Regions from separate parts of the Homo sapiens genome. Here regions 1 and 2 are each linked to region 3. Evidence: fine-mapped expression QTL. A gene starts in region 3. Each other region holds a variant in brackets. All regions are shown on one strand. Distances are between the middles of the regions. Region 1 overlaps NCS1 (neuronal calcium sensor 1). Region 2 overlaps NCS1 (neuronal calcium sensor 1). Region 3 holds the start of NCS1 (neuronal calcium sensor 1).

Region 1 (10,943 bases), 64 kb before region 3:
ACCAACAGCTCACCCCCGTTCAAGCTCACCCTCTGCTGGAAACATTGCCCCAGCTGCCCTCACAACGGCCTTCTGAACCAGAGCTTGGTATTTCCAAAGACAGGCGCCCGTGCACAGATTTACTTTCAGTGCTTCGGTGGAAACAGCACATTGTGTGGGTATGTAAATTACCTCCAATCTCTGCCTCAGGGACAGTCCCCAAGTGTGTGAAACAGTCTAGTCAGGAATCAGCCCTCCAGAGGGTGTCATATTAGCATTTTAAATATGTACTTTTATTAAAACCTACACCACAGATTTTATCCACACAAAGGATGTTAGAAGTCCCTTTTCATAGAAGTGTAATGTGGTGAAGATACATGCTTGGCTACAAAGATTTTCAGAGCTCAGCACTGTGCACCACAAGGGAAGAGCAGCAAGCAGCCTGGTGCTTCAGGACTGTGCTCAGGGGCAGGGCTCCTGGGGTCCTGGGGCCCCCACCCCCTGGATGGACAGGTACAGGTGCCTGCCTGTCTTTGTACTTACTTGACAGTGAATATCTGGACTTCTGGCAGAATTTGATCTAATACCTGCCTTCATTGCAACATTCCACCTCTGGCGAGGTTGTGGGGCAGGGGCTGTCGAGCCATCGCCTGCCTCTCATTGAGGGTCCATGGGGTTTTTGTCTGTTTGTTTTGAGACGGAGTCTCGGAGTCTCGCTCTGTTGCCAGGCTGGAGTTCAGTGGCGCGATCTCGGCTCACTGCAAGCTCCGCCTCCCGGGTTCACGGCATTCTCCTGCCTCAGCCTCCCACAGGCACCTGCCACCACGCCTGGCTAATTTTTTGTAGTTTTAGTAGAGACGGGCTTTCACCATGTTAGCCAGGATGGTCTCAATCTTCTGACCTCATGATCCGCCTGACTCGGCCTCCCAAAGTGCTGGGATTACAGGCGTGAGCCACCGCGCCCGGCCGAGGGTCCACTTTTTTACCAGAAAACCCTGTCTGTCAGAACACATGCCCAGCGTCAAGTGGTAGAGCCTGGCTGGGAACCAGGTCAGATTCCACAACCTGTGGCCCCAATCACCGTCCCACACTGCCTTTCCATGCTGCCTTTGGAACCCTCTTGAGGGTCTGGGGAGTTCTGGCATCTTCACTCTAGGACCCGCCAGAGCAACGCACAATGCTGGATGCCCAGCGTGGCCACAGAGGGTGACATCGCTGCATCCACTTCTCAACGGTTGCTTCAACCCCAAAGCGGAAGTCACATTGGGCCTTCAGCTTTGCCTGGAAGGTGGTGGCGATCTGATGATTCCTTTCACTCTGAAACATGTCTGAAACGTGGCCTGTGTTTGCAGGTGGTGGTTCATTCTAACATGGGCTGCTTGATCTTATCAATCTACACGCTTCATGCGTCTTTCAAGAGCTTTTGGCCAAGAGCAATGAATTCTAACTGACAGTTATGTTCCTGAGTCCGCGCTGGCTTTTGTTGCTCTCTGAATTCGTGTTCCTTTAACAAGCTACGAAAGTGAAAACCACCACCTCCTCTGATCCCCCTCTCCCCAACATGGCAGGGCCCATGCATACTGAGCAAACACGGGGTTACTTGACCAGAGGGGGAAGAGGAGGGCTCTCCTCTATCCCAGGCTCCAGGCCAAGGGTGACTCGGGGGAGGGCAGCCACACAGACTGCCACCTCTCGGGGTGCCTGCTGGGAGCTTGCACAAGAGCTACTCATCTCCCCACCTTCCCTCCCGACGCAACCCTCCATGTGGTCAGCAACCAATCTCTAGGCCCCCTGCGCCTGGCCCATCACAGGTGCAAAAGTCAGATGAGGTGAATGAATCATTTGCCTGAATCCCTGAGCCAATGGAGGTAGGGACCCAACCGGACATGCTGCAGCGCACACACCTCCCAGGGGTCCTCAAAGTGTGATTCACAGACCCGCAGCAGCAGCGCAGCCCAGGAACTTGTTAGGAACTCAGATTCCCAGGCCCCTGCCCAGACCCTCCTAATCAGAAACTCGGCGGCTGGGCTGGCAAGCTGGGTTTGAAGCAGCCTCCAATCCAGGTGATTCTGAGACACACTTGACTTTGAGAGCCACTGATCTAGGCCAATGGTTTTCAGACATTTTTAAAGCAGCAGCCGCCCTCTCCAGATGAAACAGGCAGGTCAGGGGATGTCGTGGGTGAGGCAGTGGGCGGGGCCTCACACCACTCAACTCTAGGCCTCGCAGAAACACTCCTGCAGATTTTTCTGGTTTAAAAGTATACTCAAGGTTCTCACTTTGCACATTCTTTCTCTCTCTTTTTTTTTTTTTTTTTTTTGAGATGGAGTCTCGCTCTTGTCACCCAGGCTGGAGTGCCATGGTGTGGTCTCAGCTCACTCCAATCGCCGCCTCCCGGGTTCAAGTGATTCTCCTGCCTCAGGCTCCCATGTAGGTGGGATTACAGGCGCCTGCCACCACACCCAGCTAATTTTTGTATTTTAGTAGAGACGGGGTTTCACCATGTTGGCCAGGCTGGTCTCGAACTCCAGACCTCAGGTGATCCGCCCAACTCGGCCTCCCAAAGTGCTGGGATTATAGGCATGAGCCACTGCACCCGGCCTACACATTCTTTCTCTTCAGGAAACTGGGAAGACAACACCCAAAGCCAGAGAAAGGGTGTCACAAAGGGAAGAAACCTAAAACGAAACGGAGAAGAATGTAAACAGACAAAGCAACAGGCCCACACAGGGAGGCGAGGACAAGTCCAGGAAGCGTGTTTAATTGGCGTGACATGGACGACATACAGCAGGAGCTTGGGGAGGCTGGGGCATGCTACACGGCCCCTGTCCACCCCTGGGCCTCGCCCTGACCCTGGCCCCAGAGACACACACCGGCAGGTTCAGACAGGACGGCACCCCAAAAAGAGACTCAAAGGGGGCTGGGGAGGCAAGCAGGAAAGGAAATAACCACAACCAGAAGACATTGCCTTTTGTTTGTTTGTTTTTGCAAGCATTATACCAATTTCTCCCCCAAGTGGCAGGCTCCGGGTGGGAGGCAGCAGCAGTCCAAACCGCTACTCTTGGGCACCGTCCTCCACTTCTGTGAGGGGCTTTGATGATGACACTCACATTTGGGTCTCACCAGGCCCCTGCGAGGCAGGCCCAGCAGAGACTCTTGCTCCCATCCAAGGGATGGGGAAATTGAGACCCAATGAGCAGAACTGACTTGCGCAAAGTCCTGAAGGAAGCCAGCCACCGAGTCAGGCTGGGAGTGAGGTGGGCCTCCCTGGGGCCGGGAGCCACTGCAGGAACAGGGACAACAGGGAATGTGCAGACTGGGGAGGGCGACTCGGGGCTACCCCATCCTGGAGAAGGGGCAGAGCCTGAGCCTGGATGCTAAGATGCCAAGACAGAAGATGGGACCAGCTGTTTATTCAACAAAAGCCTTTTATTCATTCAAAAATTAACCATTGGGTTTATTCCGCAGATATTAAAAAAAAAAAAAAAAGAGGGGGGCAAGGCTTCCCATCACAGTGCCCTTAAGTTAATTCACTTGCTATCCAGGGATGGCCTAGCAGAGGGGTGTCTGGGAAACGCTGCCAGAAATGTGGTGGCCCAGGGCCTCTGAGGACTCACAGCCCCCTCCTCGCCTCCCCGCTCCAGCCTCCCTCCGGACCACCCGTCCGGTGGGGTTGCAGCCCCCAGGTGCGTTGGCGGCTTACCACCACCAGGGGGCGCGCCGCGCTTCCTTAGCTCCCTTAAAATTAAATGCTGAAACCGCGCTGGGAACAGGGTGACTTTCCGCCTGGCGGGTGGGCAATGGAGGCTTTTTCCAGAGACAGCCTGCCTCTCCAGGAAGGGATCCCAGGCATCCCGACCTCCCCACCAACCCCCTCCGAAAAAACACAAAGTTCCTGAAACCCCAGGTGCACTTGTCTAGGAAACGGGCTGTCAAACTGAAAAGCATTTCAGGGGAAGAGATGTCAGTACAGAGGGTGACACGTACGCTTGCCTTGATGTTATTTTAAACGTGGCCTGCTTAGATCATGGAAAATCGGAACATTCTCCTAAGTCACCATCAACACAAAGTGAGGAGCAGACGCTACGAGGAAGAGGACAGGCCGTGGCCGACTGGCCGCCTGGGGCTGGTGCCTGCCCTGGCCCCAGTGCGAGGCTCTGCAGAGGGACTATGGGCGTGCCCTCTGCATCAGAGCATCTGAAGCGAGCCGCATTGGGTGGCAAACGCCGCTGTGGAGAGGCGCACGGGCTGCTCAGGAGGCACCTGGCTCAGGATTCTGCGGCATCACTGCAGCCAGAGGCCTGGGGAGAGGAGGGGGCAGAGATCGGTCCCTGCCAGGCAAACTCTAGTGAAAATGGCCAGTGTCCAGCACCCCGCCAGGGCCGGGAAGGGCGGCCCTTCCGGCAGCTCTGGGCTGGCTCGGGCTGTGGGCCCACCGGCATGCTGGGCTGCGGTCCGCAAGCATACCATCTGCTAAGGCCAGAAGCCACACCTGTGGCTTCAAACCAAAAGGCCAAAGGGCAGGACGATGGAGGAAGGCCGGACACACCGAAGGGGTCCACATGCTTAAGCCCAGACACCCTCAGCCACAGGTCAGGTTGTACAACAGTGTCAGTCCCATTGGACCAGAGAGGCAAATCGAGCCTCAGGCAGAGGCCAAAGGAAAGTAATTTGACCTGGGAAAGACCTCCCTCATCCTCTCAGCCCAAAGCCACCATGTTCGTTCCCTGCCCCAGACCCCAGGTCAGAGCCCAGCTGAGAAACTTCAGCCGTTGGTGCTGAGTCCCAGGTCGCCCGGGCCAGCAGCTGAGCAGGGAGCCGACTGGCAGGGGCCTCAAAGAATCCACCCTTCAAAGTGGCCTGTGAAGGTGGAACCACTGACCCCATCCCTGCAGGATGTTGGTGGGGGAGGGGGGGTTACCGTGGGGCCAGCGTGCAGTCCTAGGGGGCTGCCAATGAACGCCTCAGGGGGGACGCTGGGGTTGGCTGAATGCTCCAGCCAAGGGGAACAGCCACGCAGCCCCACACGGCAACGTCACTACGGCAGAGGCCTTCCTCGGGCTGGAGGCCTGCTTGCTGAGGGTGGGAACCGAGGACCAAAGTGTCCCCTCTAAAACATGGGCTGATGGGCTGTTGACTCTGCAAAGCAGCAGCAAGAATTCTAGACCCAGGCCTGGCCCTGACAGTCTGGGAAGCGGCTTCTCACCTCAAGCCTTCCCTGTGCAAGGACTCCTTCTGGGTCCCAAAGAGCGCTCAAGGGTCTGGGGGGAACCAGGAAATGCTGCGGGAAGGGACAAGGTGTGCCACATGACACATTCATCTGCTGGAACTGACCCCACACACCAGCAGCCACGCAATAGGGGCTGTGCTGTGACTCAGACAGTCCCTCGGGCTGCTGGGGTCAAGCAAACTTAACCACAGCATCACCAGCCACAGGAAACTGAACCCCAGGCCTAGAGTGACATGATGTCGGCATGGAAAAGGGCCTTCAAGACCAACCAGCCCGGGCCTCCTCGCTCTGCAGATGGGGCAACTGAGACCCAGAGAGGGCAGGAGGCTGCCCACAATCAAAGAGCAAGGGCCGGACCTTGGGCTCCTACCTCTGGTCCAGGGTGGCCTCGCATTCCTGGTGATGGTCCTGGGGCCGCACCTGCCTCAGTGGCAGGCACCGCTGGAAGCCTCCGTGAAGACATGTGGGCCGCAGCCCCAGGTGTAGGGACTATATTGATGGGATTGCCTGGAACTCTTCTCTCCTTCCCTCCCTCCCAGCCTTTGAGCCAAGAGAAGGCCAGGGAAGGACACCATGCAGTTTACTGGAAAAAGCAGATAGGAAGGAGGGAAGGCAGAGCGGGAGAGAGTCATGAACTATCTTGAAATCCCCTCCCCAGCCCAAGGAGGCGGGGGTCCCCTTGATTTCTGCTAACTTACTTCAAAGACCACCTCTCCTGACTCTGCCTGGGTACCCAATGCCCCTTCTTCCAGCTCCCAGCCTTAGGCGCCCTGTTTTCCATGCTGCGGCAAACACCAAAGCAAGAGTTGAGAAACCTAAAGATGTCCCCTGTTCATCCTCGGAAAAAATGTTACGGACCCAGGGGAGAACAAGGATGCGGGGACAGAGGCAGCAGGGAAAAGGGGTTTGGCAGGAGGCATTCGGGCTGGAGGGAACAGTGCATTAGCCATTTAGGAATTTCCACCTCTCCCCTCTCCAAAAATCAAGCACAGTATCTGAAAAAAAAAAAATTTTTTTTGGCTTCTTGGCCGCTGCAGGCCACCATCCTCCCAAGTCGGCGTGGGCAGGTGGGTCAGGGCGTGCACATGTAAACGGTGGGCCCGCAGCCCTGGGAGCTGAGGACACACCAGGCAGCAGCAACAGTTAACAACCAATAAATTAAAGATATCAATTATATATGTATATAAAAAAAAACCTCACTTTCCCCACAAAAAGCACAATACTGTTATCACAAAAAAAATCATCATCCTCATAATTAATCATCCTAGCCACGCAGGTGGTTTTGCTGCCAAAAGATGGGACGACAAATAACGTTGAC[C/T]AGGCAGAACCCCTAGACACCCTCGGCCCACCCACAGCCTCTCCGGCTGCCGAAGGACGAGGGACGAGGGCAAGGCAGAGTTCTCTGAGGTCCCCAGGCCTTCACCCCATCTGTCAGTCTGTGTCTTCTAGGACAGAAGGTAGTTGTTTTTTTTTCTTTTAAAACGTCTGTTCAAAATAAAAAACAAAAGCACACGCGCAAGAGAGCGGGAGGAACGGAGGCTGCCTGCGAGGCAGCCAAGTCCTTGGTTTATGCAGAGGGCTGTAGCCTTTTCCATTTCGTGTTGTCGTTTTCCGGACAAGCAGAGGTTGCTGGCAATTGGAGCCGGTGGCTTCAGGCGGGGGATGGGTGCAGGACAGGGGAGAGGAGAGCCGGGGCCTCCCGGGTCAAGGGCAGCCGGCTGTGTGTGGATGCGGAAGAAGGCTGGGTGGACGCACGGGGTTGGTGTCAGGGCTGAGGTGGCCTCATGGCACAGAAGGAGGTGAGTGGTTCCCAGGCATCTGGAAGACACAAGGAGGCAAGATGGGTTAAGATCCAGCCACAGCGGATAGGGGTTAAGGTCTGGCCACGGAGGATAGGCACAGAGAGCTGGCAGGAAGGTCGATAGATGGCAAGCTGGCATTCTATGTCAGAAGTCCTAAAAATGTGCATAACCTCTGAGGCACCCTTTGGGTTTTTTGGTTTTTTTTTGTTTGCTTTTTTTTGAGTTGGAGTCTTGCTCTGTCACCTGGGCTGCAGTGCAGTGGCATAATCTCGGCTCACTGCAACCTCCACCTCTTGGGTTCAAGCGATTCTCCTGCCTCAGCCTCCCAAGTAGCTGGGATTACAGGCGCCCGCCACCATGCCTGGCTAATTTCTTTTTGCATTTTTTAGTAGAGACAGGGTTTCACCATCTTGGCCAGGCTGGTCTCGAACTCCTGACCTCATGATAGACCCGCCTCGGCCTCCCAAAGTGCTGGGATTACAGGCGTGAGCCACCGTGCCCAGCCTATATTTATCCTTAATAAATAAATGTTTACCACTGCACCATCTGTAATAGCAGAAAACAGAAAACAAAAATGGAAGCAGAGAAAACAATCTAAGTGTCCAGTATCAGAGGAGTGGTGGGATACATTAGGACACACCCACAGGATAAAACAGTTTACAAACCATTAAAAACAACACATAGAACAGTCGATAAACACATGAAAAGATGCCCAACATCCCTAGTCATTAGGGAAACACACATCAAAGCCACAGGGAGGGCCAGGAGTGGTGGGTCAAACCTGTAAATCTAGCACTTTGGGAGGCCAAGGCAGGAGGATCGCTTGAGGCCAGGAGTTCAAGACCAGCTTGGCCAACACAGTGAAACCCGGTCTCTACCAAAAATACAAAAATTAGCCGGACGTGGCTGCGCACACCTATAATTCCAGCTGCTTGGGAGGCTCAGACAGGAGAATGACTTGAACCTGGGAGGCAGAGGTTGCAGTGAGCCGAGATTGCATCACTGCACTCCAGCCTGGGAGACAGAGTGGGACCCTGTCTCAAAAAACAAAAACCACAACAACAACAAAAAACCACAGTGAGGCAACCACTTCACACCCACTAGGATGGCTACCTTTTTTTTTTTTTTCATGGAAAATAACAAGCGTTGGCAAGGATGTGGGAAACTGGAACCTCTGTCCTTTGCTGGTGGGAATGCAAAATGCTGTCACTAGTTTGGAGATCAGTTTGGTGGTTCCTCAAAAAGTTAAACATAGAGTTAACCATATGACCCAGCAACTCCACTCCTAGGTATATACCCAAAGAACCAAAAATCCATACTCAGGCCAGGTGAGGTGGCTCATGTCTGTAATCCCAACCCTTTAGGAAGCCAAGGTACGCGGATCACCTGAGTTCAAGAGTTCGAGACTAGCCTGGCCAACATGGTGAAACCCCATCTCTACTAAAAATACAAAAATTAGCTGGGCGTGGTGGTGTGTGCCTGTAATCCCAGCTACTCAGGAGACTGAGGCAGGAGAATCGCTTGAATCCAGGAGGCAGAGGTTGCAGTGAGCCAAGATCACGTCATTGCACTCCAGCCTGGGCAAAAAGAGTGAGACTCCACCTCAAAAAAATAAATACATAAAAAATAAACAAAATTAAAGTTTTTTTTTTTTGAGATAAAATCTCACTTTATCACCCAGGCTGGAGTGCGGTGGTGCAATCTCAGCTTACTGCAGCCTCACCCTCCCTGGTTCAAGCAATCCTCCTGCCTCAGCACCCCTAAGTAGGTGGGACTACAGGCACCCGCCACCACACCCAGCTAATTTTTGTATTTTTGGTAGAGACAGGGTTTCACCATGTTGCCCAGGCTGGTCTTGAACTCTTTGGCTCAAGTGATCCACACAGCTCGACCTCCCAAAGTGCTGGGATTACAGGCGTCAGCCACTGCACATGGTCTAAATAAATTTAAGAGACCTATCAACCTATTACAATGGGTAGACTTTATTCTGATTCTGATTTCAGTAAACAAAGTTAAAAAAAAAAGAGTAAGATAACAGGAAACTAGAATAGCAACTAGAGATCAGAGGATATTAAGGAATTATTGATTGCTTTTGCTTTATGAATTTTTCAAAGAATCTTTATCTTTTAGAAATACATTTTGAAATGGATTAAGTATGATGATGTCTTGAATTTGCTTCAAAATCACAAGAGTGGGGGTGGGGGGGGAGGGCACAGATGGTACAAGATTGGCAGGGAACTGGGGATTCGGAAGCTGAGTGATGAGTACAAAACATTACACTTTTTTTTTTTTTTAAAGAGACAGAGTCTTACACTGTCACCTAGGCAGGAGTGTAGTGGTACAATCCTAGTTCACTGTAGCCTTTAACTCCTGGGCTCAAGGGATCCTCCTGCCTCAGCTTCCTGAGTAGCTGGGACTACAGGCATGTGCCACCACACCTGGCTAATTTTCATATTTTTTGTAGAGACAGAGTCTCTCTATGTTGCCTAGGCTGGACTCAAACTTCTGGCCTAAAGCAGTCCTCCCACTTCGGCCTCCCAAAGCACTGGGATGATAGGTGTGAGTGACCACAGGCGCCCACTCAGCATTACACTATTCTCTCTGCCACTGTGTATGAATGTTTCCATAACAGATAATTTGTTTTGTTTTGTTTTTCAGACAGAGTCTCACTCTGTCACCCAGGCTGGAGTGCAGTGGAGTGGTTTTGGCTCACTGCAACCTCCGCCTCCCAGGTTCAAGCAATTCTCCTGCCTCGGCCTCCCAAATAGCTGGGATTACAGGTGCCCGCCACCACACCTGGCTGATTTTTGTATTTTTTGTAGAGACGGGGTTTCACCATGTTGCCCAGGCTGGTCTTGAACTCCTAACCTCAAGTGATCCACTTGCCTCAGCCTCCCAAAGTGCTGGGGTTACTGGCATGAGCCAGTGCGCCTGGCCCATAATAGATAACTTTTTAATCCCTTCCCCAAATTCCCAACAACCTGAGTGTCCAACACTGTGGAACTGGTTAAATTATGGCCCAGCCATGTGATGGAGCATTATGCAGCTATGAAAAATGATGGCTCAACATTTAATGATGTGGAAAATAAGCCTCATCTCAGTTTCTGAATAAGTCAATGACTTACATCACTGCAAGTGATCTAGGAATTATGAGCTATCAGGAACCTGAGGAGGCAAATAAATCATTAAAATGATAGAACACAAATTGGATATAATCACTACCGCGTAGGCACAAGGAACAGCCCTATAGAAGAAAGAAGGCCATTTCCCAGCAGAGCTAATAGAAAGGGGGATCATATCATGCGAGGGCTCTTGTCACTTTGACAAGCTTGTCATGGAAATAATATGACATGGTGATTTGCAAAAGAGGACTGTGAAAAATTAGACAACGGATCAGCATTCACCATGGGACATGTCAAGGTACACGTCAAACATTTCTATGATGGAAATATTGGCCAGGCGCGATGGCCCACACCTGTAATCCCAGCACTTTGAGAGGCTGAGGTGGGTGGATCACAAGGTCAGGAGTTCGAGACCAGCCTGTCCAACATGCTGAAACCCCATCTCTACTAAAAGTACAAAAATTAGCCGGGCGTGGTGGCAAGCACCTGTAATCCCAGCTACTTGGGAGGCTGAGGCATGAGAATTGTCTGAACCCAGGAGGCAGAGGTTGCAGTGAGCTAAGATCACGCCACTGCACTCCAGCCTGGGAGACTCCATCTTGGAAAAAAAAAAAAAAAGAAATATTAATAACAGTGATAGTTCCTTTATAAATTGGTTTTAATTATATAATTTCTGTGTGACTCAGTTTACTGAGTGTTAAGTTTTGTAAGTGTTCAATTCTTTTAAAATCACTCTGGACACTAAAATGTTCACTGTGATTATATCTGAGTCATACATAAGGGGTTTTTTTTAAAATAAACTTTTTAATT
Region 2 (8,999 bases), 29 kb before region 3:
TGGCTTACGCCTGTAATCCCAGCATTTTGGGAGGCCAAGGCTTGAGCCCAGGAGTTCAAGACCAGCCTGGCCAACATGGCAAAACCCCGTCTCTACAAATAGAAAAATTAGCCAGGCATCAGGTGGATGTCTGTAGTTCCAGCTACTTGAGAGGCTGAGGCAGGGGAATCACTGTAATTGAGCTGAGATGGCACCACTGTACTCCAGCCTGAGCAACAGAGCAGAGAGACTCTGTCTCAAGAAAAAAAAAAAAAAATATATATATATATACATACACACGCACACACACACACATATATATGTATGTGTATACACACACACACACACACACACACACACACACACATATTTACCCTGGAGGCAAGAGCTCAGCTTCTGGAGTCTCGATGCCTATGGTTCATCCCAACCCTGCCACCTCCCAACTGGACTTTCTCTGAACCTCAGTTTCCTCATCTGCCATGTGGAATGATGAGCTCTGTTAACCCCTAGTACTGCTCCCAGAAGTCAATGGCAGGCCACGTGCAGTGGCTCACTCCTGTAATCCCAGCACTTTGGGAGGCCGAGGTGGGTGGATCACTTGAGGTCAGGAGCTCGAGACCAGCCTGGCCAAGATGGTGAAACCCCGTCTCTACTAAAAATATAAAAATTAGTGGGGCATGGTGGCACACACCTGTAGTCCCAGCTACTCGGGAGGCAGAGACAAGAGAATCGCTTGACTCTGGGAGGCGGAGGTTGCAGTGAGCTGAGATCATGCCACTGCACTCTAGCCTGGGTGGCAGAGCGAGAGACTCCAACTCAAAAAAAAAAAAAAAACATGGATTTGAAGCACCAAGGACGATGCCTGTTGGGGGCCAAGCACCCACTGTGGCCAGGCCCTAGGGACACAACATGGACAAGGCCAAGCTAGCCAGCCCTCAGAGTGCCGACAGGATGCAGAGAGGGACAAAATGCTTACCTGCTGCCCAGTAAGTCATCGGCTGTCCCAGGGAGGCACAGGGCAGTGGGAACTCTGACAGAGGCCTGGGGGGTTTCAGGGGGTGGGGGGGAGGGGCGAGGAGGTAACAGCCCAGCAGGCAGAGGGAGCAGCCTGGGCAAACATCAGGAAGCCCCGGAGACAAAGGTGAGTTCAAGGAACAAACAGCAGTTCAGGCTGGCCAGAGGGTAAAGGGCAAAGGCCAACAGGCAGAGGACGCCAGACTGCAGGGGTCAACAGGGCCAGACTGAACCAGGCCTCGTAAGCACATAACCATGTCAAGGGTGAGGACTTCACCCTGAGGTCTGGGGAGGGTGGCAGACGCCTGGCATGGTCAGGTTTTTGTTCAGCAAAGACCCCTCTGGCTGGCGTGTGTGAAGGCAGGGAGAACATGTACGGATGGGGAATCTAGGGAGGTTTCATGGTGGAGGCGACTTGGGCTGAGCCTTGGGAGGGGCAGAGTTCAGATGGCCCAGGAAGGAAGGCGGGCATTCCAGGAAGCAGAGCCACATGGGTGAAGATCTAGAAGGAGGGTGTTTCTAGGGCACTCACCTGGGGAAGTGCAGAAGTGGAAAGTGAGGGCGGAAACTCAATCCCAGGATGGGGCACCTCCCAGCAAGGGCTCAGCAGAGCCAGGCGGGCCAGCATAGCCCTGCCCCATCTGCAGCTTGGACTTGAGGCAGGGAGGTGTAGGGAGTGGCCCTGGAGGCTCCTGGGGGGTGCCCGGCCCTGCCAGACTTGACTGGAAAATCTCCAAGCTCATTGCCTCATGTCCCTACGTGCCACCCCTACAGCTCAGCCACCTTACATGGTGAGCCTCCTGTCTGCTCCACATTCCACAAAGACGGACAATACACCGCCCTCCTCCCCCAGGCCCAGCCCTGGCACTGCTCATCCATTACAGGCCCCACTTATCCCTCACTGCCGCTTTTCCATTTGCTCCATGACGTACGGCCTCGGAATCCTTATCACGGCCCTCCAGGCAGCTACGACAGATTGAATAGAGCTGGCATCCAAGAGCAAACCCATTTGCCATCCCTGATCCAATCGAATCGATCATTCTATAGAAGGGGTGACGGAGCCCCAGCGAGGGGAAAGGACCTCTCAAGGTCATAGAAGGACTTTCTTATCCAAACCCTTCTCTTTGGTGAACAGGGCCTGGAATCAACCCTTCAGGCCTTGGTGGTCCCTAAAGATGCAACTCAAAGCAAGGACCACCAACAAACACCCCAGCGCCACCCCCAACCCAGTTCCACTGAAACCACGTCAGTCCCGCAAGGACAAAGGCCACTGAACAAAGGCTGTCTGGACCCCACGCTCAGGGGCCCCTCCACATGCCCCCATCCTGAGCAGCTGGACTGCTGTCCCCATCAGCCCACAGCCCACAAAGCCCACAGCCGCAGCCCCTCTACGGTTTGAGAAAAAGCAGCTACTCACCACTGCTGGACCTCCTTCTCGGTAACTGCAAGAGAAAGCAGAAAAGTAGGCTTTTAGCTCAGGGAAGGTGTCCCGGGAGATGGGCAGACATTCGCTGGGGGGCCTCCCCTCCAGCCCTCCCCTCCCCACGGCCATGTCCCCGGGCAACGGCCTGCTCTGGATGAGAAAATGCTCCCTTGGTGAGCAGTCCTAGCCAGGGGCTCTGTACCCACCACCCCAGCAGGGGACACTGGCCCCACCCCTTCCCGGTGCCCAAGTGCTACCTGCCACTGCCACTGCCGCTGCTGGGAGAGCCCCCAGGAACGCCCTGTGGCACTCAAGGGTTTGCTTCTCCCACAGCCCTTGCTCCCAGGCCAACATCTAAGACTTACTCGTTGCCATCTCTCAATCCCTGGGGACGGGATGTCAGGGAAGGCCCTGGCTTCCCCAGGCACTCGGCTGCCCCACCTATGTGGGGGGGTGGGGGGAGCTAGGCTGAAAAGGGGCAGCTCTCAGCAGAAGGGTGGACCACCCTCCCTGTCAGCCTGTCCCTGCAGCCCCTCTCTGTGGTCAGCCCGGGCTCTTTCACTGGCAAGACATGAACAGAGCCGTGAAGCAAAAGCTGAAAGAGGCTACAGAGAGCGGCTGAGCCTGGAGCCAAGCCCACATACCCATTCTTTACTGAGCCATGAAACAAACAAAAATGCTTTTTCTGAAAAGTACAGAATCGTTTCAAGTTGGAACCAAATCAATGTTCTCTCTAAAGTCACCGAACAAGAACACCAAACCACCACCAAGGCCACCCTTGCTCCCTGCCTGTGTGAGCGCGGGACGGCTCCTCCTGCACTCCCTGCCTTGGGCGCCTCATCCATAAAGTGGGCATCATATTATCAGCACCTGCCACACAGACCTGTTGTGGGGACTCACTCATAAAGGCATGGAAGCTACTGGATCCCTGGGGATGTCAGACACCTGGAAAGGCCAGGCCTGGCGTCAAAGAATGGAATTTTCCAAGAGAAAGTTTTGGCAAAGGGTACGGCGTAGGGCCCTCAAATGTGCTCAATACTGGTTTGTGGAATGAATGAATGAATGAATGAATGAATGAACACATGAACAGACAGGAAAGGGGTGTCAGGTGGAGGTCAGATGAGTAAAGGAACTAGAATCTATTCCCAGGGAAGTGGGAAGGAAGCCCAAAGAGGTGTCTCTGAATTGTTTGTGCCTGACCAGACTTGAGGAAGCCACTTTTCAAAAACCACTCAAAGCAAGCTCGCAACAGCTGCCAAATACCAAGAGCCTGCCGCAAGCCCGAATCTGCGCCCAGGGCGGGCCTCTGTGCTTTAGCTCAACGGCTCTTATGACAGCATGGAGGGAGGATGGCACAACTCTGCCCCAGCTCCAAATGTGGAAACTGAGGCACAAAGAGATCAGGAAGTGGCAAGGCAAGGGCCTGACCTTAGGTCTGTGGCTCAGAACCAGGCAGCCAGATTCCTGGGCAGGCTAGATGCCTCCATCCCCGTGCTGGTCAGCACTCTCCTCCCACAAGCCCAAATCAGAGATGGAGGAAGAGACCTGTCTGCAAGCAGGCCTCAGATAAAAAGAGAGGAGGCAGGTCAGGCACGGTGGCTCACGCCTGTAATCCCAGCACTTTGGGAGGCCGAGGCAGGCAGATCACAAGGTCAGGAGATCGAGACCATCCTGGTTAAAGCGGTGAAACCCCATCTCTACTAAAAATACAAAAAATTAGCCAGGCATGGTGGCACGCTCCTGTAGTCCCAGCTACTCTAGAGGCTGAGGCAGGAGAATCGCTTGAACCCGGGAGGCGGAGGTTGCAGTGAGCCAAGATCACACCATTGCACTCCAGCCTGGGTGACAGAGTGAGGCTGTGTCTCAAAAAAAAAAAAAGAGAAAGAGAGAAAGAGAAGGCAACAGCGGGAGATGCCAGTTACCCAGAAACACCGGGCCTGGAGTCAAAGAAAGCAATTTTCTGAGATAAAGTTTTGGCAAAGGGTATGGGGCAGGAACGGGTTCAGGATTCGGCATGGGGGTGGAGAGGGAAGGTGTCCTTGGTCTGATCCAGGCTGGCTGCCTGTGATGGCAGCTGTGATGGCAGCTGGGGCTGTGGGGCGGATGCTGAAAGCCCAAACCTGGAGACACAGGCGACCCATCACAGTACCGCCAGGAGCTCAGGGCCACAGGTGCTAAAGCCAGACCAGACCGCCTGGGTTCAAATCCGGCCCCACAGGGCACTGTGTGTCCTTGGGCAAATTGCTTCCCCTGACTGAGCCTCAGTTTTCTCATCTGTGAAATGGGATTGTTGGGAAAACTGAAGTGCTTGCCGCTCCTCAGCTTCACAAAAACCCCACAGGGAGGTGTGACCCCGTTTTCCCAATGAGGAATTGAAGTTCCAATGGGTCTGCTTATTTGTCTGAGATCACCTGAGGTCCCTTTGCCAGGAAACAGCAGAGCTGGGACGGTGCCCCTAGAGATCAGGATGGAGGCCCAATTGGATACAACTCCTTGAGTCTGCATGACCTTGTATGACCTTGGCAAGGGGTGGCAGCATTCGACACAAACAGCAGGAACTGGGTGGCATGGCCACTGTCTCAGGCGGGCCTCACAGTGCCAGAGCGGGGCTTCCCTGGACCCCCAGCTCCGAAGTCCCACTCTCCCTTGACACCCCCCACCCATGTCTCCCAGCAGCCTTCCCCCAGGGCTCTGCCTCAGTCTCTGCGTCCTTCCTCACCCCCAACTACACTCCAAGGATGCAGCAGGGAGGTGGGAGAAGGGCATATGACTAGGGCTCCCCCCATTGGAAAGGTCCCCCCACAGAACCCTGGGTGATCAGCAGGCAGCCGAGCCCCAGGGAACCGGAGCTAGGGTGGGGGAGATAAGTCCTGCCCATGCTTTAAGCAGCAAATTGACCTTTAGGAAACAGTTGAGGCTGGCAGGTATCCCCTGGCACCCAGCCAGGGCCCAGCAATTCTAACTGCTTCACTGCCTGGGGCCTTGGAGGGCCTTTTTTTTTTTTTTTTTCTGGAGACAAAGTCTTGCTCTGTCACCCAGGCTGGAGTGCAGTGGCACTATCTTGGCTCACTGCAACCTCCACCTCCCGGGTTCAAGTGATCCTCGTGTGCCTCAGCCTCCCAAGTAGCTGGAACTACAGGCATACACCACCACGGCCAGCTAATTTTTGTATTTTTAGGTAGAGACAGGGTTTCACATGTTGGCCAGGCTGGTCTCAAGCTCCTCATCTCAAGTGA[T/G]ACGTCTGCCTTGGCCTCCCAAAGTGCTGAGATTACAGGCGTGAGCCACCACGCCCAGCCACAGAGGGTCTTGAAGGACAGCAGGCAGGACCCACATCTCTGGGGTCCTGGCCACCTGCCCCCAGCCCTCCCGCCAGCCAGGGAGCTCTGGCACGGGTCAGGCTGTCCTTTGTCCAAACCCCAGCCCCCTGCTGAGCAGCTACCACCCCAACCTGGAGAGGAAGCTGAGCCGGGGTGGAGAGGCGACCAGAGGAACGTGCCCATCCTCAGCCTGGGTTTGCCCATCACCAAGGCCTGTGTTCTCAACCATTGTGTCTGGGTTCCCAGAAGCTCAACTCTTCCAAGATCACCTTCGAGATCTTTCTCTGTCCAGTGTCCAGTGATTCACTCAGGATTTTTCTTGAAATCATCTCAATTTGCTTTTACTTACCTGCTTAATCTAGCTTCAGCCTAAGCAATAATATCCATAAAGTTACCAGTGACTGTGCTGGTCATATCTTTTCTAATACACAATAAAAAATATAACAAATTCAAAAAAAAGCCACCGTCCTTGATCAAACCTGCCCTGCCTTCGATCGTGAAATAGCCCAATATCATGTACCCCTTAATTTGATGCAGTGGAAGGGCACGTTATCCGTGAAGGTCTCCCGCCAAAAATAATTAACCTGAGTCTAACCACAAGGACATAATCAGACAAATCCGGGCTGTGGGACATTCTACAAGACCACTGACCAGGACACTTCAAGTCAGGGCCAGGAAAGGCAAAGCAAGTTGGAGGATTGTTCCAGAAAAAAAGAGTCTAAACAGACGAGGCAACCAAATGTAACTCAAGATGCCTGGATCGGGTCCAGATCAGCAGGAAAAAACTGTTATCATGGCTGTCGCTGGGCCAGCTGGGAAGCCACTGCACTGTGGACTGGTAATTAGGTGCTGCCATGGGGATGAGGTGGGGGTGGTAACAGCACTGAGGCTAATGCCCTTTTTCTTTTTCTTTTTTTTTGAGGAGTCTCCCTCTGTCACCCAGGCTGGGGCTAGAGTGCAATGGTTGATCTGGGCTCACTGCAACCTCCGCCTCCAGGGTTCAAGCAATTCTCCTGCCTCAGCCTCCCAAGTAGCCAAGATTACAGGCACCTGCTACCACGCCTGGCTAATTTTCGTATTTTTGGTAGAGACGGGGTTTCACCATGCTGGCCAGGCTGGTCCCGAACTCCTGACCTCAAGTGTTCCATCCGCCTCGGCCTCCCAAAGTGCTGGGGTTACAGGCGTGAGACGCCGCGCCCAGCTTTGGAGATATGCTCTGAGCTATTCAGGGGTGAGGGTCAAGACGCCTGCAGCCTCTTGTGACATGGTTTAGAAATATACACACTCACGTATGTAGAAAGAGAGGGGACAGATGCAGCAGAGCCGGGGACTCGAGGACACAGAGGCATCCCTGCACCACCACATCAATGTTCCTCTTGATTTTTCAAAATAAAAAGTTGAGGGAAATGTTTGTCCTCTTCACCCCATAACCACTGTGCCTGCCTCCCCTCCCCACTGCACAATGCCAGGAGGGCTGGGGGGTCCTGCCCAAGGTCCTGTGCCCCCAGCAGTTCCCGCCAAGACAGGCACTGGGAGGGAGGGAGATGGGGGACAATTTGGGGGTTCAGCTTCCCTTTGCCTCAGCCTCCACCCAGATGCCAGAGTGACCTTCCCAGGCTCTGGTTCCCAGCCCGGCCCATTTTCCCCCTCCTCCCAGAGCCTCCAACTGCATGTGAAATTAACAGGGCCTCCGCCTCTGCCTCCCTCGGTGGGTCTGGGCTCTGGGCTCTGGGTTCAGGGCTCAGGGTTCAGGGCAGGGTAGGAACGCAGGCAGTCCTTGCACAGCTTGTTCCCTGGGTCACTGGCCCGCATCCTGACCCCACTGGAGTTCCTCTGACCGTTCCAGCCTCCAGGCCTTTGTGCTCTGCCAGGAACACTTCCTCACCTCACCCGTTCCACCCAGGGAAACCCCATCCATCTTTCAAAGCCTAGCTGCGCCCGAGCGCGGTGGCTCATGCCCGTAATCCCAACACTTTGGGAGGGCAAGGTGGGCGGATTACTCGAGGCCAGGAGTTCGAGACCAGCCTGGCCAACATGGTGAAACCCTGTCTCTACTAAAAATACAAAAATTAGCCGGGTGTGGTGGCGCGTGCCTATAATCCCAGCTACCACGGAGGCTGAAGCATGAGAATTGCTGGAACCCAGGAGGCAGAGGTTGTAGTGAGCTGAGATCACCACTGTACTCCAGCCTGGGTGACAGAGACTGTCTCAAAAAAAAAAAAAACAAAGCCCAGCTGGGATGGCCCTCTTCTAGGAGGCCCTCCCGACCCTGCCTTGGCCCCTTGGGAAGCCCCCTTCACATGAGGTCTGTCTTCCCATGGGTTCCACGACAGAGGGCCAACGGGGGTCTGACCAAGGGGGCACAGGCTGGGCTTGGGGGAGCAGTGGTGAAGTACAGCGGTCCAGAGAGGGCCTTGGCCAGCCCAGCAAGCACTTCAGGCCAGGGCTCCCTCTGATCTGTGGTCTTGGATGAGTGACCCCGCATCTCTGAGCCTTGGTTTGCTCATCTGTAAAATGGGACTCAGGCATCTAGCAGGAAGAGGAGGGACTGGTGCTCGGCCCAGTGTCCAGCACCCAGCAAGTGCGAGACAGAAGCACTTCTTCCCCTCATTTTCCTAGCTGGACACTAAGCCTGCAGAGGCCAGGACACTTCTCCTGGCCCATCCTAGCATCACCCTCAGAGCCTGGCTCAGCACCCTGCACACAGGGGACAGAGAAAAACACCTGCTGATTCCTCCTTTGTCATCCAGCCACTGGGCTGGGTTTAGAACACATCCTCAAACGTGTTTCTCATGCATTGACCTTCACAATTTCATCTGGCTTTGGCCAATTTTTAAAACGAACTCTCTCCATCACACTCTGCCTCCAGGCCTGCAGGCCCAGGCTCGTACCAAAACCAGGATTTAAAACTGGCAATGGGCCATGCTCTCCATGGGGCCAGACAGGGGAAAGTTCTGGGGTGCCATCCTGTCAGGGCCACTTGAAGCCTGGGTGATTCCAAACAAGTTTCTTAACCCCTCTGAACCTCCAAGTCCTCACCTGTAGGATGGGGTATAAACTCCTACCAGGCAGAGCCATTGTCAAGGTTGTTGAGGAGTGGATGGAGAAATCAGAGCCGACACAGGGCCCTGGGAGAGGGGGGGCTGGGCATCCACTCTACTCCCCTTCACTGACCCCCAGAGAGCCAGAGCTGCAGAAGGGGAGGGCAGCTGCAGTCTCAGAGCAGAGAGTGGGTCCTAGCCTTCGCCGCACCCCCACGCCCACAG
Region 3 (10,188 bases):
ATACACAGAATCCCCCAGAACAAAGAGCAGATGGCTCCACTCCCCATCAGAAGGAAGCCCATCTGGGGGCGGGAGAACAAGCTGGAAGCTTTCTCTGCTTGTCCTGTTGGGAGACTTTTCATTCTGTGAACCTACTAAAGGCCAACACATGGGGGGAACACAGCTGTGAGCTCCACACACAAGGGCCTGCACTAGGGAGCTGACGTCAGCGCGGGAGGCAGACAGGAGGCCAATGAACCCACCGCCACCTCCAACGGCCCACCCCTAATAAGGGCTTCGACAGAGGAAAAGTACCCAGGCCAACTCTCTCTCTGCCCAAAACTGTTCCACGTCTCCAAAGGCCTTTAAAAATAGCCCAGCCCAGCACCACAAGGGCCAGTTCCTAACAAAGCTTTGTTGACTCAACTTCTCTTAAAGTTGACAGATCTGCCCGGAGGAGGGGGCCGGACAGGACTATCACCCCAGGCCCTTCCCATTTAGAATCCACCATCATGGGCTTCTAGCAAAAGCCAGAAAAAGACACCCAGCAGAGCTTTTTTTTTTTTTTTTTGGAGACAGAGTTTCCCTCTTGGAGCAATCTCACCTCACCGCAACCTCCGCCTCCCAGGTTCAAGCGATTCTCCTGCCTCAGCCTCCCGAGTAGCTGGGATTACAGGCATGTGCCACCATGCCCAGCTAATTTTGTATTTTTAGTAGAGATGGGGGTTTCTCCACGTTGGTCAGGCTGGTCCACCCGCCTCGGCCTCCCAAAGTGCTGGGATTACAGGCGTGAGCCACTGTGCCTGGCCCAGAAGAGCTCTTGGCACGAGCTCTGAAGTCTCTCACTAGCCTTGGAGCAGGACAGACCGGAGTTCAAGTCCTGGCACTGCCTGGTCACTAGCTGTGGGATCATGGGAATGCCACTTTGCCCCTCTGAGCCTTAGTTTCCCCATCTGTAAATGGAGATCGTAGCAGCACCCAGCCTGGTAGAGCAGTTGTGGCAGAGTCGAGGTGCTAATGATGCCAAGAGCTTGGCACGTGACATGCTCGATGAGCAGGAAACCTGGCTTCACTCCCCTGTCCCACCATGATGGAGGCATCCCGTGCAGCCCATGCCCACCACTCCTGATGGAGCCCACGGTGTCCTCACCCTCCCCCGGCACAGGGACCCAGGAAGTCCACCTGCTGGCGGCTGTGGGCCACATCTGGACTTAGCTTGAAGGAGTCCCCAGCGAATCTCACAAAACAGCAGCCAGACTGGAATGGGCCACCCACCTGCCCACCTTGGAGAGAGGGTGAGAACAGCCCCTGTGCCCAGGGGCTTCACCCCTTCCAGGTAGCAGCTCTTGGGATGTGAGCTCCATGCTGCAGGATTCCACAGGAGAAGGGCCAGCACCTCGCAGCAGACTAGCACCCGCTCAGGAAAGCCCCCTTTGTTCCAAGCATGAGGGGTGAGGGGCATGGAGCTGAAGCGTGGGCTTGGACAGACCTGCAGACGTGCCCAGAAGGCCGATGGAGTGGGGGGAAGCGGGGAGCAGAGGTTGTGCAATGCACCACCAGGAGCTGCCTCCCCAGCCTCCATCAACACATGGGGCTGGCGGTCAAGCTGCTGCCTCCAGGGGTGGTGCAGAGGGCCTGGGCCCACGCAGCTGCCCGGGGATGGGTTCTGAATTCCAACCCAAGCCCAGAACCACTGTCCCCTTCCAAGTCAAACACCCAGGCAGAGGTCCTTCCAGACCCCGATGCTGAAGCCTTCCCTCTGGCAATCCCCTGGGTGGTCTGGACCCATTACCATTAACCCCTGGTATGCCAGGGCACCTCCGGAGAGGCTGCAGGGAAGGGGGAAGCCTGGTATGGAGAAACTAGGACTGCAAGGGGACTGCAGAGTTGTGAAGTTAGGCAAGTGGAGGGAGACACACTGAGGCTGATCTGGAGACGCCCAGAAAGGACAGGCCATCCTCCTCCGGGCAGCCCGCGACAGCTAATGATCACACGCGGCCCAGATGACCCGGGCTGTAGAAACCCACTTCCCGGTGTGGCAGACAGAGATGGGGCCAGGGAGAATCCAGCCTGTAAGTGCTGCAACCCACAGGGTGCCGGGGACCCTTCACCGCCGTCACCGCACGACGAGCGCTGTGCCAAGTCTCGCCACCCCCCCCCCCACACGAACGGGGCCAGGGAGGGGGCGACAGGCCAATCTCGCAGCAGCGGCGGCGGCGGCATCGTGATGCATGAATCACCAGCCCCGCGCGCTCGTGCCAGTCGGCTCCGCGCAGCCGGGCGCCCCCTCCCGGGACCACCGCCCCACCCTGGCAACAGCCCCTGCCCGTTGGGACAGCTCTGCGGAGAGGGGGCCGCCAGGGGGCTGGGGCTGCCCCTCCGGACCTAGGGGTGGCGCCGCGCACGCCGACCGGCGCGCACTCCCCGGGCTGGGGGTGCCAGAACAATGGGGCCGGGCGGGGGGCAGGGGCGCGGCCCGGGAACCTCCGAGGGGTCCACATTGGAGGCCGGGCGGGGAGGACGGAGCGGAGGCGGCAGCGCGGAGCGGGTAGCGCGCGGGTCCGGGGGGCGGGGGCGGGGGCGGTGGGTGTGGGGGTGACCGCGGGGCGCGGGCTGGGGGCTGGGAGCACTCACAGTAGGTCTTCCTGGTCAGCTCCTCCACAACTTCGGGCTTCAACTTGCTGTTGGATTTCCCCATCCTCGGCGGCCGCGGCCCCCGCCCCCCCGGGCCGGACCCGGTTGGGGCGCCCAGCAGGAGCGGCTGGGCCGGGCGGGCCGGGCCGGGGCCGCGCCTTTGTCTGCGGCGCCCGCGCTGCGCTGCGCGGCTGTCGGCGCCGGGGCGCCCGGGGCGTGGGGCGGCCGCTGGGCAGGCCCGGGCGGTCCGGGCGCCGCGGCGCGGGGCTGCCTGGGCTGGGCGCCGGCGCCGGCGCGGTGTGGCCGCGGTCGTCCCTGGTTACTGGGCTCCGCGGCACATGCTCGCTGCTGCCTCCCGCCTGCCGCCGCCCCTGCGCTCCCCGCCTCCCGCCTCCCCCCTCCCGCCCGCACCCGCGCGCCAGGGGTGGACCCGGAGCCGCCACTCAGCGCCCGGCGCCACCTCCCGCCCCGCACCCGCCTGGCCGCGGCCTCCGCCAGCTGGACCCCGGCCTCGCCAGCCAGCCGGAGGGGCGTCCCCTCGGCTCAACGCGGCCCCAGGGCGGGGCAGCCACCCCCGCCACCCCCTCCCCGAATCCAGCCCTGGCGCTCCGGCCCCCGCCGCGGCGGGGAGGGCCCGGAAGATCGGATGTGAATGAGGCCAGGTCCCGGCCCGGAGACATTCATTCATTCGACACGGATTCATGGGGTGCCGGGGACACGGCGGCCCACGGGACAGGAGTGCCCCAGCCCTCGCAGGGCGGGCAGGGGGCTGTGCGGGATGCGGCAGGTAGCGGTGGGAGCACCTACTCTCGGCCTGGGGGCAGGAGACCTCCAAACCCAGGGTCAGGAAGGGAGGTGGATGGAGAAGCGTTCTGGCCCAGGCAACCTGGAGAGGCGGGGAGGCCTGCATGCCCGAGGGAGAGTTCCCCGGCTTGCGGGCTTGCGCACGGCTGCAGGCACAGGGGACCTGGGAGAAGGGCAGGGCCCACGGGGCAGGCCAGGAGAGGCCCCTCGCCGAGGAGCTGGGCCCCTGCCCACCAGCGCCCATGAAAGGACTTCAGCAGAGAGTGATGGGTCAGAGCTGCTGGAGTGACAGGTCAGAGCTGCTCAGAGCTGTTTCTCTGAGCCGAGGCTGGGGTGACAGGCTCCACCTGAATGGACAGAGGCCAGTGGATTCGCGTAGGGGGGTGTGGTTCAGGTGGTAGGTCCAGCATGGCCTTCCCGGTCCACCTCATCCAACATATCATCATATCTTGAGAACTCTCCTATCCTTTTCGGCTTTAGTTTCTCTCCTTCACATCCATCACAAACGTCACCTATGTTTTCTGCATCCTGTTTGTCTCTTCCATGGGAGAACACCCTCCCAGAGGGCAGAGGCATCTCCATAACCCAGAAGGCCGCCTGAGGTGTTACCCAGCAAATCTCTGTGAATGAGCGAAGGACGGAGGAAAGAATGACACCCGGTGCTGGGGCCCTGGGGTAGGGGAGAGAGCGGGGAGGATGAGGCAGCCCTCCCCGGGGCTAGCAGGGATGAGGCAGGAGTGGGGTCTCTTTCTCCCTTCTTTCCACAGTGTTCTAACCTCGGAGGGTCCAGAAAGCTCAGAGGAACCCTGAGCAGGGCCGAGTGCCTTCCAGCTCCCAAATATCTCTCCTGCCTCTAAGCATACTCCATCCACTCCTGCTTTCCCCTGAAGCCCCTGCCCAGGCTGAGCCCCAGGCCCCAGGAAGTCTTCAGATGGGGATGGACTTGCTGGCTTGGGGAGCTCATTCTGCAGAGGAGGTGGGCCCAGTTGGAGGGATCTGGTGTAGACCTGGGAGCAGAATGTCCCAACCTTGAGGACCAACTCAGAGTGGACAGCAGTGAGGGGCCCACAGTGGGGGGCTAACAGTTGACCAGACTGTGCTGAGCATCCTGCCTGGGAGGAGGGAGAGCCAGCACGGGAACCAGGGCCTGGCTGGATGACAGCAGTAGTAGTTAAAGCCCTTTAGAAACCCAGGTGCTCAGGCTGGGTGCAGTGGCTCATGCTGGTAATCCCAGCACTTTGAGAGGCTGAGGTGGAAGGATTACTTGAGCTTAGGAGTTCAAGACCAGCCTGACAGGGGAGACCTCATCTCTACAAAAATTTTTAAAAGTTAGCTGGGCTTGGTGACACATGCCTAACTCCCCGTTACTCGGGTGGCTGAAGTGGAAGGATCACTTGAACCCAGCAGGGCGAGGCTGCAGTGAGCCGTCATTGTGCCACTGCATTCCAGCCTGGGTGACAGAGAAAGACCCTGACTCTCTCTCTCTCTCTCTCTCTCACACACACACACACACACAAACACACACACATGAAAAGAGAAGAGAAAAAAAGAAAGAGAAAGGAAGGAAGGAAGGAGGGAAGGAAGGGAGGGAGGGAGGGAAGGCAGGCCAGGCATGGTGGCTCATGCCTATAATCACAGCACTTTGGGAGGACAAGGCAGGTGGATGGCTCGAGCTCAGGAGTTCAAGACCAGCCTGGGCAACATGGTGAAACCCCATTCCTACAAAAAATACAAAAAAAAATTAACTGGGCATGGTGGCACATGCCTGTAGTCTCAGCTACTCGGGAGGCTGAGGCAGGAGGATTGTTTGAGCCTAGGAGGTAGAGGCTGAAGTAAGCCCTGTTGGCACCACTGTACTCCAGCCTAGGTGATGAGACCCTGTCTCAACACACACACACACACACTCACACACTCACATGCATTCACACACACACACAAGAAACCCAGGTACTCATCCTGTGAGTATTTCTTGCTCACTGCCCCTGTGCCAGGTGCCGTGCTGGGCACTGAGACCAACATGGGAGCTCACGGATCTGACCCGACCTGCTGCACAGCGATCACAAAATCACACTGGCAACAAACACCATGCAAGGAATGGAGAGGGTGGGGGAACATACATGGGAACACCTGCCAAGGAACTCAGGGACTTCACAGATTCATCCCATCATTCGGGACATGTTTACTAAGCACCTACTATGTGCCCTGGGGACATAGACCAGATCCCTGCCATCAGGGACCTTACACTTTCGTGAGGGGAGAGTGCTATAAACAATAAACAACATGCATAAGTGCAGCATAGAAACCAGAAACACGGGGGCGCAGTGGCTCATGCCTGTAATCCCAGCACTTTGGGAGGCCAAGGCGGGCGGATCACGAGGTCAGGAGTTCAAGACCAGCCTGGCCAACATAATGAAACCCCGTCTCTACTAAAAATACAAAAATTAGCCGGGCATGGTGGTGCACGCCTGTAGTCCCAGCTACTTGGGAGGCTGAGACAGGAGAATCACTTGAACCTGGGAGGCAGAGGTTGTGGTGAGCTGAGATCGCACCACTGCATTCCAGCCTGAGTGACAGAGCAAGACTTTGTCTGAAAGAAAGAAAGAAAGAAGGAAAGAAGGAAGGAAGGAAGGAAGGAAGGAAGGAAGGAAGGAAGGAAGGAAGGAAAAGAAAAGAAAAAAGAAACCATAAATACGCTGCATGAGTAGAATGTATCTCACAGGTGAAAGAAGAAAAATGAGGCGGGAAGGAAAATGGGAAGGGCTGAGGGCCGGAGGTGTGTGGTGTTGGCTAGAGAAGGAGCCTCACTGAGAGCAGAGGGGGAGCATCGCCCAGGCCCCGTGGCAGAGCCCAGGTGGAGCCCAGCTGGCCCACGTACAGCCTTGTGTGTGGCCTTGCAGGGGTACAGTAAGGTGGGCTTTAAAGGGCGAGGTGCAGAGTGGGGAGGCAAGGTCAGACTCCCGACTCAAGGGATCTGATGTGCTTAGCCGGCCCCTTCAGCTGCTGCTGCAGGGAGAACTGACTCCAGGCACAGATGGGTAAGAATGGGGAACTGCCAGAGGTCACTGTATCATCAGCCAGGAGGTGGTGGTGGCCACGTGTAGTGTGGCCTTGGAGGACACAGAACTGGCTAGACTCGGTGACATTTTGAGGGTAGTGAGAGCAGGATTCCCTCACTGCTGTCTCCTCTGAGTTGGTCTTCAAGGTTGGGAGACATTCTGCTCCCAAGTCTACACCAGATCCCTCCAGCTGAGGCCCATCCTACCTCCTCTGCAGAATGAGCTCCTCCAGGCCAGCAAGTCCATCCCCATCTGAAGACTTCCTGGGGCCCGGGGGTCAGCCTGGGCAGGGGCTTCAGGGGAAAGCAGGAGTGGATGGAGTATGCTTAGAGGCAGGAGAGACATTTGGGGCTGGAAGGCAGGAGAGACATTTGGGGGCTGGAAGGCAGGAGAGACATTTGGGGGCTGGAAGGTATGAGACGGAGAGAGGGGACTCAAGGACAAGGCCGGGCTTTCTGAGCTGAGCTTATGGAAGAGTGGGGTTTCTATTTGCTAAGATGGGGAGTGGACAGGTTTGGACAGGAAGAGCTGGAATCTTACTGCAGACAGGTGAGGTGTGAAATGCTTACCAGATGTCCAAGTGGTGACGGGAGAAAGCAGGTGGCACAGGCGTCTGGAGTTCAGGGACAGGTCCAGGCTGCAGGTATGCACTGGGAGCCATCCTGGCAGACATGCCCTTTAAAGTCTTGAGACAGGATGAGGTCACCGAGGGAGGGAGTGTAGGCTGAGAAGGTCAGGCCAGGGAGACAGCAGGGGTGCTGACGGGGAGGTAGGAAGACCACCAGGAGGCAGTGCTGGAAGCCAGGGAAGAATGTGTTTTAGGAAGGAGGGAGAAGCATGGGAACTGCTTGGGGAAGGGTGGGGGGAGTGTTTTGGACCCCCGTGATGTGGGGACGGCATGTGGGAAAGTGCTGGGCCTTGGGACCAGCCATCCCTCTTCCTGACCTGGTTTTTAGCTGAAAAGGTCCCTGCCCACATCAGCTTAAAATGCTGAGCCTGAGCCACCACATGAAGGACTCAGATCTGCTCTCTGATGCCCTGGTCACAATCCAAGAAGCAGAGGTTCCAGGTCTTTCCACTACAGGATTTTGATGTTTAAGTGAAAAAAACGTGCAACCCAGGCTGAGCGCAGTGGCTCATACCTGTAATCCCAGCACTTTGGGAGGCCGAGGCTGGCAGATCACCTGAGGTCAGGAGTTTGAGAACAGCTTGGCCAACATGCTGAAACCCCATCTTTACTAAAAATACAAAAATTAGCCGGGCGTGGTGGCGCACACCTGTAGTCCCAGCTACTCAGGAGGCTGAGGCAGGAGAAGTGCTTGAACCTGGGAGGTAGAGGTTGCAGTGAGCCAAGATCGCGCCACTGCACTCCAGCCTGGGCGACAAGAGTGAAACTCCGTCTCAAAAAAAGAGAAAAACAACCAAACAAACGAAAAACGTGCAGCCCATCTTCCAGTTGGGGTGTCATGGCCAATTCACAGGTTAAGGGATCCTTCTGGCTGCTGTGCAGATTGGAGCAGGCAGGGTGAAGGCAGAGATGCCATTGAGGACTTGGGAAATTGAGTGGCCATTGATTAGATGTGGGTTGGAGGGACAAGAGAGGAAGGCATGACCGTGGATCTCTGGGTTGGGAAGAGCAGCCCTACAGGAGACAGAGGCGTCAGAGTGGCCCCCTGGTGGTGTCCAGGAGCCCCTGAGGGATGGATGCATTTCTCAAAATGGGGTCACCAGACGAGGACCAGGTTCAGAGAGGGGGTGATGATCTCAGCAATGGATCTGAGATGTCTGTGAAACACCCAAGGAGGATGTTGAGGTCTATGTTCAGAAAAAACAAAACCAGGCCGGGCGTGGTGACTCACGCCTGTAATCCCAGCACTTTGAGAGGCTGAGTTGCGCAGATCACCTGAGGTCAGGAGTTCGAGACCAGCCTGGTCAACATGGTGAAACCCTGTCTCGACTAAAAATACAAAAATTAGCTGGGCATGTTGGTGCACTGCCTGTAGTCCCAGCTACTTGGGAGGCTGAGACATGAGAATCGCTTGAAGCCGGAAGGCAGAGGTTGCAGTAAGCCAAGATTGCACCACTGCACTCCAGCCGGGGCAACAGAGTGAGACTCCGTATCAAAATAAATAAATAAATAAATAAGTCAAATTAAATGATTTTTAAAACCCAGGTTATAAACCGTTGTGTATAGAATAATGAAAATAAATCTCTGCACCCATGTAGGAAGCTGTCTGAAGGACAGGCTTCCAGGGAATCCTATCAGTTGTCAGTACAGGTAGATTATGAGTCACTTTTATTTTTTCTCTCATCTGCATTTTTCCTTGCATTTTTTTCTTGTGATATAATTCGCATAAATTTCATCATTTTAAATTAGCACACATTCAGCCATTTTAGTATATTTGCTATATTGTGTAACCATCACCACTAATTTCAGAATCTCATCTGTATTTTATTTTACTTTATTTTATTTTATTTTATTTTATTTATTTTTTCTTTGAGATGGAGTCTCGCTCTGTTGCCCAGGCTGGAGTGCAATGGTGAGCTCTCATCTCACTGCAACCTCCACCTCCAGGGTTCAAGTGATTCTCCTGCCTCAGCCTCCCAAGTAGCTGGGATTACAGGCATGCGCCACCACGCCTGGCTAATTTTTTTGTATTTTTAGTAGAGACGGGATTTCACCAAGTTGGCCAGGCTGGTCTCAAACTCCTGACCTCAGGTGATCCACCCGCCTTGGCCTCCCAAAGTGCTGGGATTACAGGTGTGAGCCACCGCGCCCGGGCTCATCTGTATTTTCTACAGATTGTTTTCTACAATTAAACACATTGCTTCTGTGTTTTTGTTTTGTGGTTTTTGTTTGTTTTTGAGACAGGGTCTCACTCTGTCACCGAGGCTGGAGTGCAGTGGCACAATCATGGGTCACAGCAGCCTTGACCTCCCAGGCTCAGGTGATCTTCCTGCCTCAGCTTCCCTAGCAGCAGGACTACAGGCACACACCACCACACCCAGCTAATTTTTTAAATTTTTTGTATAGATGGGGTCTCACTATGTTGCCCAGGCTGGTCTTGAACTCCTGGGCTCAAGCAATCCCTCCACCTTGTCCTCCCAAAATGATGGGATTATAGGCGTGTGCCACCACATCCAGCTCACACATTTCTTTTGAATAAGAAAAGTATTTTGTCAATTTTTTTCACTCATCCACAAATACCCCAAAGTAGAGGCCTTCTAGAATCACCAAGACTCCCCCAGGGGGCCTGTCCATGACCCAGATCCCCAGCTTCCACTCCACACACGATGAATGTCACTGAGGTTGGAGCATAGCTTGGCAATCTGCATTTTAACCCAGCCTCTAGCCCTCCCCCTTGCCTTTCAGCAAAAAGGGTCCCTGCTACGGTTTCATAAGCTCACTCTTCTGAGGGTGAGGGTGAGGGTTAGGGTTAGGTTTAGGGTTAAGGTTTGGCTTAGGCTTAGGGTTAGGTTTTGGCTTGGGTTTAGGGTTAGGGTTAGGGTTAGGGAAGCTTGCTCGGTTGCTCTTCCAGGAAGTCCATGGGGAAAATATTAAACACAGGTTGGGCAAACTCTGGATCAAATGCTCCGCTCAGTTGCTGCATCCTTGAGCCCCGGTTTCCTCCTCTGCCAGATGAACAGCCCTGGCCTATCCCCCTTCCAAGGGCTTAGTCTGTGGACCTGTAGGTAGGTGCATTACCGGGAGTAT

Evidence for each region.
Region 1: its variant is fine-mapped to the expression of NCS1 in fibroblasts (GTEx, PIP above 0.99). The same link has a PIP of 0.9 or more in esophagus muscle and tibial artery.
Region 2: its variant is fine-mapped to the expression of NCS1 in tibial nerve (GTEx, PIP 0.96).

Annotation. Positions count from the first base shown.
Region 1 is chr9:130,229,074-130,240,016 of GRCh38, reverse strand. NCS1 (neuronal calcium sensor 1) reads right to left here. Exons shown (of 8, transcript NM_014286.4): 8 at 2,714-7,027. Among named protein-coding and RNA genes, the nearest start is that of MIR12126, 6.8 kb to the left of the region's middle. RefSeq lists enhancers at 1-88, 169-348, 2,506-3,065. The variant C/T (reference allele first, on the strand shown) is at 6,528.
Region 2 is chr9:130,194,394-130,203,392 of GRCh38, reverse strand. It overlaps NCS1 (neuronal calcium sensor 1), which reads right to left. Exons shown (of 8, transcript NM_014286.4): 2 at 2,411-2,435. Among named protein-coding and RNA genes, the nearest start is that of NCS1, 26 kb to the right of the region's middle. RefSeq lists enhancers at 5,172-5,671, 5,672-6,173. The variant T/G (reference allele first, on the strand shown) is at 5,653.
Region 3 is chr9:130,165,153-130,175,340 of GRCh38, reverse strand. NCS1 (neuronal calcium sensor 1) reads right to left here and starts at 2,937. Exons shown (of 8, transcript NM_014286.4): 1 at 2,614-2,937. The coding sequence starts at 2,677. RefSeq lists enhancers at 663-1,573, 3,035-3,823 and silencers at 2,871-2,960, 8,439-8,642.